Linked DNA regions of Homo sapiens: region 1 is linked to region 2. Evidence: fine-mapped expression QTL. Tissue or cell type: lung. Region 2 holds a variant in brackets; the other region holds the start of a gene. All regions are shown on one strand. Distances are between the middles of the regions. Region 1 holds the start of TFPI (tissue factor pathway inhibitor). Region 2 overlaps TFPI (tissue factor pathway inhibitor).

Evidence for each region. PIP is the estimated chance that this variant, and not a neighbour inherited with it, causes the effect. A credible set is the group of variants that fine-mapping cannot tell apart.
Region 1: TFPI starts here. The variant in region 2 is the best candidate, but not a certain one, in a credible set for the expression of TFPI in lung (TOPMed, PIP 0.72).

The regions. Positions count from the first base shown.
Region 1 is chr2:187,551,236-187,556,631 of GRCh38, forward strand. TFPI (tissue factor pathway inhibitor) reads right to left here and starts at 3,200. Exons shown (of 8, transcript NM_006287.6): 1 at 2,965-3,200.
Region 2 is chr2:187,484,407-187,489,802 of GRCh38, forward strand. It overlaps TFPI (tissue factor pathway inhibitor), which reads right to left. Exons shown (of 8, transcript NM_006287.6): 4 at 3,931-3,969; 5 at 405-581. The region is part of intron 2 of CALCRL-AS1 (CALCRL and TFPI antisense RNA 1); the gene reads left to right. Among named protein-coding and RNA genes, the nearest start is that of CALCRL, 39 kb to the left of the region's middle. The variant G/GTACA (reference allele first, on the strand shown) is at 2,929.

The sequences.
Region 1 (5,396 bases), 67 kb after region 2:
ACAATTGGGATAGTTGTACTGCAGCATTGGAACTTCTATTATGGGCCATGATGTCCTTATATTCTTTTGTTTTTGAAGTAATTTTAACACCTGGTTGTTCCAACTAAGAGAGGACATAGCATCCCAAATAGAGGCTTAAAGAGAAAACAGTGGATTTGACATGGGCCCATACTTTCTGTTATTGTCGGTTTGAGGAAGAAGAAAAGTAGAGGTGAAGAAGTTGCCTTCAGCAACTGGTAGCTACTGGTAGTTGAATCTCAGGCTGTGGTTCTACTTGGCACCTGACACTTGGAGAAGTGAAGACAGGGAGAGAAAGGTAATGGGAAGACTGGGCCCCCGGAATTGATACATAACACCAAGAAAGCAGTCAGTGAGGATTTCAGAAAGCCAGGAAAGATGGTCTATTATGAAGAGAACTTGCTGGAAACACTTGAACACTTCCCTGTTTCTGGTGAGATTTGATATCCAGAAACACATGTCTATTGAATTCAAGTTTCTCCTAATGCACATTGTAGCAATCAGAAAGAATTATAGTACTGCTATATTTCTATAAAAGATAGCAGAATCTACCTTTGACACTAATGCATGAAAATATATTTGTGTTTTAAAAAGGCAGCCTGCCAAATTTAATTCCTAAAATGAGTTAATTGCTATAGATGGTAAACAAAAAAGGATGGCTGGTTGTAGAAGGCCTTTATTGAGAATAGATGAGTTGTATTGTAGTACAATTCTTAGATCATGTCCACATAGAAAAAAATAAATTGATGATATAATTAACCCATTTTAACCTATATTATAATTCAATTTAATTAATTTATACTGATAAGATTTTTTTGAAAATCCTAGTCTAAGTAATTTTCTTCACTTTTCATATTGTCTGTTCCTTTTTATTTTTTGTAAGGATGTTTACTTTGCATTTTTTTTCTTGTATTAGGTAGAGATATCAGTTGAAAGATACCTTAAAATTTTGTGACACTGAATTTAATCAGCCAACCATTCCTAAGGAATTGATAGCATATTTACTATTTGGTTAGATGGATAGGCACTCTGGCATTAAATTAAGTCTCTAAAGTTGGCATTTTTTCTCCATTAGTTTGCCATCCTGCCCACTTACCTCTTGAATTTGAAAGATGTAAACAAAAGATTTCTAAAGATTAGAAAATTAATTTTTAAGATAATTAAGCTGTTTTGAAAATTAGAGTTTATTACAAAATATGTTATCATTTTATGTATTATTAATTTAACAATAAGTTTTATGACAGAAGATTTAAGTCAAAATAGTTGTACAATCAACAAGCAAATGATAATCATTTCCTTAAATGATTATCTGACTGATAAATGGACAATCAGTCAGACCATCAAACACCAGTTGATAACATAATCCATTTGGACAGGAACCACATTTCCAAAGGAGTTTTGATTTAGTCATTGGTGGTAAAACAAAAGATATCAGACTGTACCTTAAAAACAAAGAAACAAAACAAAACAAAAACTTGTCCAATTCAGTATACCTAATAGAGATAGGAATCAAATAGTAGTATATGTCATTAAACTTTTCCAACAAGATTCTGTGGTCACTTGAAGTAGAAAAACTTGGTTTTCCAATATAACTACTCAAATCAGTAAAAATAAATATTTTAAAGTTTTACTCTTATTTTAAAATTACTTGATTAGTTATCTGTATTTACATTAATATTTTTCAATCTTTGTTGATCCCTAATTATATTTCATATAATTTTATTAAGCTGTAGGCCACAAATTAACATTTCAAACTCAGCCAAATTTCAGGGACTATCCCTCTTTAGTTTAAGGATTAGATGAGATATGGACACTGTATATTGAAATAATCATGCACTAGAATGATAGATTTAAAATAATCTTTAAAATGTGTTAGGGAGATTTTGCCTCCCTAACACATTTTATTCAAAAGTTTTGCAGTATCTCTCAAAATTGTCACAACTTTCCCCCTTTCATGTAAATATTATGCTTTTACACATGAAATATGACTCTCTGGGCAGTATGTTTCCTGCTTGAGTTTTGCCCTTTGTGTTTATATTATCTCATGTTATACAAAGTCATTTTGTGACTAATTTCCAGAGCACTGAGTCACAGTGTGGCTGTTGCTTATCTTTTCTTTTTTCCCACATGGTAGTACTCTTGGCCCTTATTTTTGGTAATTATTTTATACTAATGAGTGCTTTTTCATAATTAAATAATTGTTTCTCTCATTATATTTCTGTGGTTGTTTACTGCTGTATTATATGCTTTCATTTTTCACTAGAAGCAAACATTTTATAACAGGAACATAACAGTACATCATGTAGGCATGTTATCTATTGTTTTAATTTACAAAATTGCACAACATAGACTTGATCGTAAGTATTCTCGTTTAAGTATCTCAGAATATGACCTTTGGTCTTTGGAGAATTGTAAAATATTTCCTTAGAGAGATTAGTTAATGCTGGCATAAAATATTCCATTTAGATTACGATTATTTTAATGGTTATACCTCATTTTAAATATCATCAACTAATAGTATTGAAAGATTATTTGAATAGAAGAATAACAGTCTCTATTTTATATGTTATGAAATAAAATGGAAAGGTAAACCGAACTTTCAAGAACTTCCAATTAACCAAGCACAATTAGTAAAGAATTCTACTACAATCTTCAAATTATAAAAAAGCTACATACACCAATTAGTTACAAAAATGTTTATGGTTTAAAATCATAAAAATTGCACATAAATTTGCTTAAGAACTAAATGCAAAATGCTGAGAACTCAAGTTTGGATTGCAGTTTGAGTTTACTCTGTTTACAGGGAAGGGCTGATTTTCATTTTACGCAAATAAACAGTGATCCTCCCCTATCAGTTCTTTGCCTCTCAGCACCCTGCTTTTCCCCCGAGAAAAAGAAATTAAAGTTATTTCTTATGGGCTAGACAGTATATTGCCAGGTACTCACAAGTAAAATCTCTGATGAAAGTTCTTGGAATGTTTTTTTCAAAACGGAGTTGAGGTTATTTTGTTTTTCCTTCCAGGTATTGAAGACAGGATTTATCTTCTCTACTTCTTCTTTTAGAAGCAGATCAAGAAACTGGCGATTGAAGAGTAACTGAAAGAAACGCAATCTGATCTTACTAGCAGTGAAAGAGCGAGGTAAGAATTTGACTATTATCCAGCCTAAAGTCGCTGCTGTCTGTTAGAGCAAAGAGGGAGCCTCAGAGTCGGCTTCAGAGATCACTGGCAGTTGGGAATAGCCCAACTTCCTGTTTAGGTCACTGCAACTCTGACTCTATTTAGTCTAAACCTCTTTTTTCTTTCTTTCTTTCTTTTTTTTAGTGGAGGAAACAGATGAAGGAAACAGCTTACACCAAGATTTCAGATACGATCATTTTGAATAGCTATTTCCTTTACTTTCCAGGATTGTTTTTGTAATCAGTTGAAAAAGAATGCTTTTTTCCCCCTAGAGTTAGGGTTTAAAAAATTACATATTTATTATTACACTGTTAATAAGCTTTTTTGCAGTTTGTTTCTTCTTCAAGTTATTTCATTTGTTTCACCCACTGTCAATGTATTTATTTTTTTTAAAAGTCTGAGGGCTACCGTTGGAGGTCTCTCTTAGTGAGACAATGTAATGCATTATCTATTGCAGGTGTCAGGCTTTGAGCCCTACCTTAGCTACTTGCTAACTTGGCTACTCAGCCCAGTTATTTGAATTCACTATGCCTCAGTTCCTTTGTTCCTAAAATGTCGATAATAAAAGTTTCTGGGCTTGATGTAAGTACTAAATGGCTTAATACATAAAAAGTACTTAAGGCAGGACCCAGCATGTAGCAAACCTCCAATAATTGTTGGCTATCATTATCGCTGTTTTCTGTATTTCTATTATTATTATTCTACAAAATATGTAAATATTTACAGATGTCAACCAGAGTCTCTGCTGTATGTCCCTATCATTGAGGTTCATCCGTACTGTCTCTGTATTGGAATTATGGTCATATCAGACTAAGATCACTAGAGATCTAATAAATGGGCAGAATCTACTTTGCCAGGAAGGCTGAAGACATTTGGTCAGAAAATGTAGGAGTTTCTTGCTTCTGCATCTCAGATTCTTTGTGCCTTCAATTTTTCTTGCTTTCCTTAGACCTCTCTGTAAAAGGTAACCTTTCATCTTGAGTGTTTTTAATACATATTGAATAATTATTTGGTGGTGACTGGAACATAAATTATCGATTTAATTCTCACAACTAGCTTATAAAGAAGGTCCTCTTTGTATGCCCATTTCACATGTCTAGGAAGATCGAGTTCAGTATGTGGAGCTGTGATTCTAATGTCATGCAGTCTGCCTTTAGAGCAAAAATGCATAAATCCTCCTCCATGCTGCCTTCTCACTCATGTTCTGGATTTCATATCATGTTAATAACTTATCTCCTATTACCTCATGCCCTGCCCCTCAACCACAATCAAAGCTATCATCTCACTCAGATTGTAGAGGAAAGTCCTTTTTTCTTGGTACCACCATGGACCTTGATTAAACTTTTGAGGAATCTGTAGCTCAGGTAGAGGCAAGCTCAGCCAATCAGATTTTCTTTCTTGAAAGTTTCGCCTCTCCTCCCTCTCCCTCTCCCTCTCCCTCTCCCTCTCCGTCTCCCTCTCCCTCTCCCTCTCACGGTCTCCCTCTCCCTCTCTTTCCACAGTCTCCCTCTGATGCCGAGCAGAAGCTAGACTGTACTGCTGCCATCTCAGCTCACTGCAACCTCCCTGCCTGATTCTCCTGCCTCAGCCTGCTGAGTGCCTGCAATTGCAGGCGCGCCGCCACGCCTGACTGGTTTTCGTATTTTTTTGGTGGAGACGGGGATTCGCTGTGTTGGCCGGGCTGGTCTCCAGCTCCTAACCGCGAGTGATCCACCAGCCTCGGCCTCCTGAGGTGCCGGGATTGCAGACGGAGTCTGGTTCACTCAGTGCTCAATGGCGCCCAGACTGGAGTGCAGTGGCGTGATCTCAGCTCGCTACAACCTCCACCTCCCAGCCGCCTCCCTTGGCCTCCCAAAGTGCAGAGATTGCAGCCTCTGCCCGGCCGCCACCCCGCCTGGGAAGTGAGGAGCGTCTCTGCCTGGCCGCCCATTGTCTGGGATGTGAGGAGCCCCTCTGCCTGGCTGCCCAGTCTGGAAAGTGAGGAGTGTCTCTGCCTGGCCGCCATCCCATCTAGGAAGTGAGGAGCGCCTCTTCCCGGCCGCCATCCCATCTAGGAAGTGAGGAGCCTCTCTGCCCAGCCGCCCATCGTCTGAGATGTGGGGAGCGCCTCTGCCCCGCCGCCCCGTCTGGGATGTGAGGAGCGCCTCTACCCCGCCGCGACCCCGTCTGGGAGGTGAGGAGCGTCTCTGCCCGGCGGCC
Region 2 (5,396 bases):
GTCAAAAAAGCGTAGCAGTTAATGTTTAAGTCATCCCTTTAATAAATGTTATAGGCAGATAAAACTGAGTGACTTTAGGTGGTGGTTTTCAGTAACTGTTTGCTCTCATATTTGTATAAATGTGAAAGATTTCAGCAATTCTATTGTGCCAAAATTGTACTGCAGTATTCTCAGGAAGAAGAATTAAATAATGCAACATAAAAAGTATTAGATCTATGAAAATAATTTCTTAATTTTCTGTGCTTTTTAAAAAACTACAGTCACAAATCTCACATTGAATGCACACAAATATATCTTCATTTGCATGGCTCAAACAAAACCTGAGTATAGAATGCCATCTGAGATGCCTTAGTTTTAAAAGGATGCCTATAAATGAACTAAAATGAAATAAGAAATAAACTTACGACCATCTTCACAAATGTTCTTGCATTCTTCCAGTGTCTCAAAATTGTTCATATTGCCCAGGCATCCACCATACTTGAAACGTTCACACTGTTTTGTCTGATTGTTATAAAAATACCTGGTAATATAACCTCGACATATTCCAGGATCTTCTTCCAAAAAGCAGAAATCTGGCTTTTCTAGAAATTATAAAAATGTCAGAAAGCAATATTCTTTTGTGTAAATAAATTACTGATTTTAATAAAATTTATAAATACCTGGCTAAGTTATTGAAGGAGTAAGCATAAAAATTAAAAAGTAAAAATCTAACTTTATCCATAAATATACACTATTAAAATTATCTACCATATTTTGGGATTGGCATTTCAAATTCTAAATTTCTCATAGTAAATTAATAGGGAATTAACTGTCATTTTTTTACAAATTTAAGGAATAAAAGATTATTTTACCATGTACCACTCTTGCTTTGAAATTACAAAACATTATGGCAAAAATGTGGTTTAATTATTTTTAATATGTTCATGTGTATTAACATTTAGGGAAGGTCTATGAACATTTCAAGCTATTGAGGGTGGCTTCTCAGGAAAAGCATTGTAGTGCGTTGCTCCATTAAGAATGGTTTAAATTTTTAAAAGTTGAAAAAGAATATTTGAGGGGTAGGAAGTTTTCATGGCTAGCCTTAGAAGTTCCTGAATTCTTATGCGGGAATTAATATCTGTACTAGGTAGGACATCCTTTACTGCTGTGTCATTTTTATTTTTTCCTTCTTCTTGTCATTGGAATGACTTCAATAATGCAGAGGCAGAAAGGAAATACATGTTCAAGGATTGGAGAGGCTTTTGCAAAAGACTAATACTTCTTCTTTGATAGTGCTCCAAAGCAGGCTAAACACAGCTGTCATAAAAGTTGTGCCACTGTGATCTACATCACCAGCTCTGTCTACATGCATGCACTGTGAAAAGAAGTGAGCTAATTTTCAAAATTATTATGCTCACAGGCGTATTGGGCTTGAATTTTTAGAACAAAATTCCAATTTCTCAATTTTTTTCCTGCAAGTATATTACCATATTGGCAAAACTGAACTGTGGTAACCTTTTTTCATCTTAAAGCAACTTGTTCTTCTATGTCAGGGAAGCAATACCCACAAGTATTTTACAATAAAAAAGAACATGTATTTAATAATGTTAATGATTTCTGCAACAGTTGCAGATCTGCAAAAGAACAAACTCCTTATTGAAAAGTTATTTTATTAAGTAAAACTTCCTACTATAATATAGTTTTAAAAGTCTATTTTCTGTAACTTTTCAATGTATTAATTTGAAAGTTAACTTTGTTTCTTCTGTATTGCCTCTTGATCTTTCAAATGAATGTTTTTATGATTTTTAGTTAATTGTAATAATATGTGGGGGAAAGGAATAAAACAATTCTTTAAAATGTTATAACATTTTATAAGGTAAAAATACATTGAATTACTATCATATGATTTGTTTTAGTCTTAATGTGTACTTTTTATGAAATTTTAAATGATCTGAACAGAGGATACAAGAACTTTATGTTTGCCAAAAGTGGATGGAGGAAAAATATTGCATATAAAAAACATAAAGGTATAAAAAATTATGCTGATAAGTATAATTAAGAAATTATACATGTACATAAATATATACACCTAATATGTACCCACAAAAATTAAAAATAAACAAACAAAACCACAACAAACAATAAACTGTACAACTGAAAGTTGTTATTTTTCATATGAAACTACATTGGGAAACATGAACTTATGTGAAGACAAAGTTGAAAATGGACACATGTAAAATAATTCTTTTTTTGGCCTGCAGTTTAAACTACAGTTGCAAATCAAAAAATTAATTTCCCATTTTCTTCAGGTAAATAAATTAACCTTCTTATTGAATTTGCATACATAACCCTTGCTCTAAGTTGGTGCTCAGTTGCACTTGAGTAACACAGAATGCAGACTGGATAAGCTAAAGCATTATCACTGTCAACTTTTGTTTGGGCCTGAATACTTGGGAATTGTCTTGGACCAAACTTTCTTTCTAAGGGATTGTATTAAATCTCAAATCTCTTTATAATGGTCCAATGCTAGGAAGCATAATACAAAGTTCACTCGAAATTGATCAAGTCTTTGTTACAAATAGGTGTTAACATGTAAGCATTTTTAACATTCATGTGAACACAGCTTTATTCTCTAACTTTCATATATAATATGAGATAAGAATGATTGAATTCTGAATTATAAATATACACTTTATAGCATAATTTTACCTAAAAATAGTACCTGTATTTAATTTTTCTCTAATTTTATGTTTTTGGTAAAAGGTCCTAATATTTAAAGGTTGGTATTTTCTTTCACAAAAATATTTATTCTCCTTTGTAGACAAAAACTTCTTTATTATAAATATGCCATTTTGATATTACAGATAAGGCCTTCATTTAATTAAAGTACTAAACATTTTGGTCAAGATTATTTTAATATTTATAGGAATCTATTTTTTAAAATTGTAA[G/GTACA]TACATTTAGTTATGTTTCTTGTACAAACTTTGCTATTATCTTTATTTTATACATTTTGATTCCAATTCTGGTCAGTGAATTGAGCCTAAAGATTATCAATGTGTCACAGAAATTTTCAACTCTTTCCCACATAAATAAATCAAAATAAATAAAATTAAAATGCACTTTGAATTTTGTGGTCTTTCATGTTGCGGTCTTTCATGTCCTGAGTTAAACAATTTAATCTCTTTGTTCAATATTTTCTCATTGAAATGTAAATGCCATAACTGACAATTGGACCAAATCAGTTTCCAGGCCTTTATTAAAAGGACGTTGGTTTCCCTGATCCATTGATAACATTTTTTCTTGTGCTGATATATTTGTGAAAAAGTAATTATTTTTAGCTAAAAACAATAAATGATATGATTTAAATTACACAATTAAACATACACATACATGCTAGATATTTATTTTTAAATATCTCTACTTACTTTTGCATGTATAACTGCTGACAACTCAGAGACATACATCCATTCAAGGGAATATTTGGTGAAACTTGCTAAAGCCACACAATGTTGATTAGATTAACAAGTGATTAGAGATCAGAGAAATAAAGTTAAGACTCAAAATATCTAAATCTCTATCTGGAAGGTGTTAAAATAGCATGTGTGGCTCTGGACTATGATTGAACTAAAACTAAATATCATACTACATTAGAATTAGAGTAAATACGGTGTTTGGAGCCTCCTCTGACAAATATAATGTATATATTTTCCTAATTTTTGATTATGTCCATTGAATCATGCAACAAATCATTTCAAAAATGACATGATCAATCTGTCATATGGGTTTATGATCAATCTCTTTTATGGATTTTTTTAAATCAATCTCAGAGAAACTTAAGAATTGAATATCTATACTGAATCAGGGACCAGAAAAAACAAACAAGCAAACAAACAAAAAATTGAATATCTAAATGCCTTACATAAATGCTTCAAATTTACAGACAAATAAATGTTCACCTTGTTGCAATGTTGTCTTTATAATCCTGTTTGCATTATCTGTAATCAAAAGAATATATGCATATCAATTGTCACAATTTATAAAGTAATACTATGAATTTGAATTTAACAAACAAGAGTGACATATTTATTACCATTAAAATTATTCTTATACAGAATGTCTTAATAAAAATTGAATTTCTTTTTCTTTTCTCTAAAAATTAATCTTTTCTATTTATTGTAACCATGAAGCCACTTCATTTCAATAGAGTAATGTTTTAGAAACTATGATAAAACTTTCTAACACACTTACAAAGCTGAGAATTCATAGTGACTATGTTTACTGTTCAGGATATCTATACTTAAAACAATTATTTTAAAAATGTGAAATATGAAAGTAATTCAAGCAGCCTACATTACATATAAAAATAATTTGTTAGATAACTGGGAATAAAAGTGAAATTAACCAGAATTATTTCCTTTCCTTATTCTTTCCCCTGCTTCGTTGTCTCAATCCAATTGCAAGTTTCATTATTATTACCAATGTAGAGAAGAAATGAAACAAAAGGCATCTGGGACACGTTGTTTGGTTTAACATTTGATTAACGGAATCATTTCCCTCTAAAACTGGAATGTTAGTTGTCTTTGTCCTACCATATTCCAAGTATGAATTCTAAGTTCTAATTTAAATGATAGGTAATGAAATTTAAATTGACAAAATAAATCTATGAAGTTTTAATTTGCTCGCATAGACATTAGGAAAGTTGAGTGGTATTTATTTTGTTGTGGAATTATTTGTTTTGCAGAGAAAATCTTTGGTCAAAGCAGGTTAGCATTCGTTATATGACCAGAGAGATAGAAAGGGAGCGAGAGAGAGAAGGGAAGAAAGAATGAGAGAAATAATATGAATTGGGTTATAAGCCTCTTTCAGCAACTGCATCATCCTTTTTTTCTTGAAATAGTTAATTCTTCTATGGAGAGTAAAATGTCTATGAAAGTGAAACTAACGGACCCAAACTTCTTTTCTAATTGTACTATGTTTTATTCAATAGCCTTTTAAAAAAAGAGGTGTGTGTGTGTGTGTATATGTATAGCTGTATCTATTGAGGTAAGTTTTTTGGTTTACTTTGTTTTCACTGCAACTAACCAACTTCATATTAATGTTTTCAACTAGATTGTAGACTGTCATATAACCTGACATTAAAATATTTAGATATAAAACTAATATGATTTAATTGATAAGAAGAAAGAAATGTATACATATAATGAGTACATAAGACTAGAACACTAAGCAATTTTCATTCCTGATTTACCTATTGACAATAGTCATAAGATGGGAATATATAAATGCTTGATTAATACAATTTTTAAAAGAACATCTATTTTGTTTGTTTACTGTTACATTGTAAATAGGATTAATTCAGGTAATATACATGCCAATTAACTCAATGTGGTTTAGCACACTAGAATTTTAAGTGTATTTATAT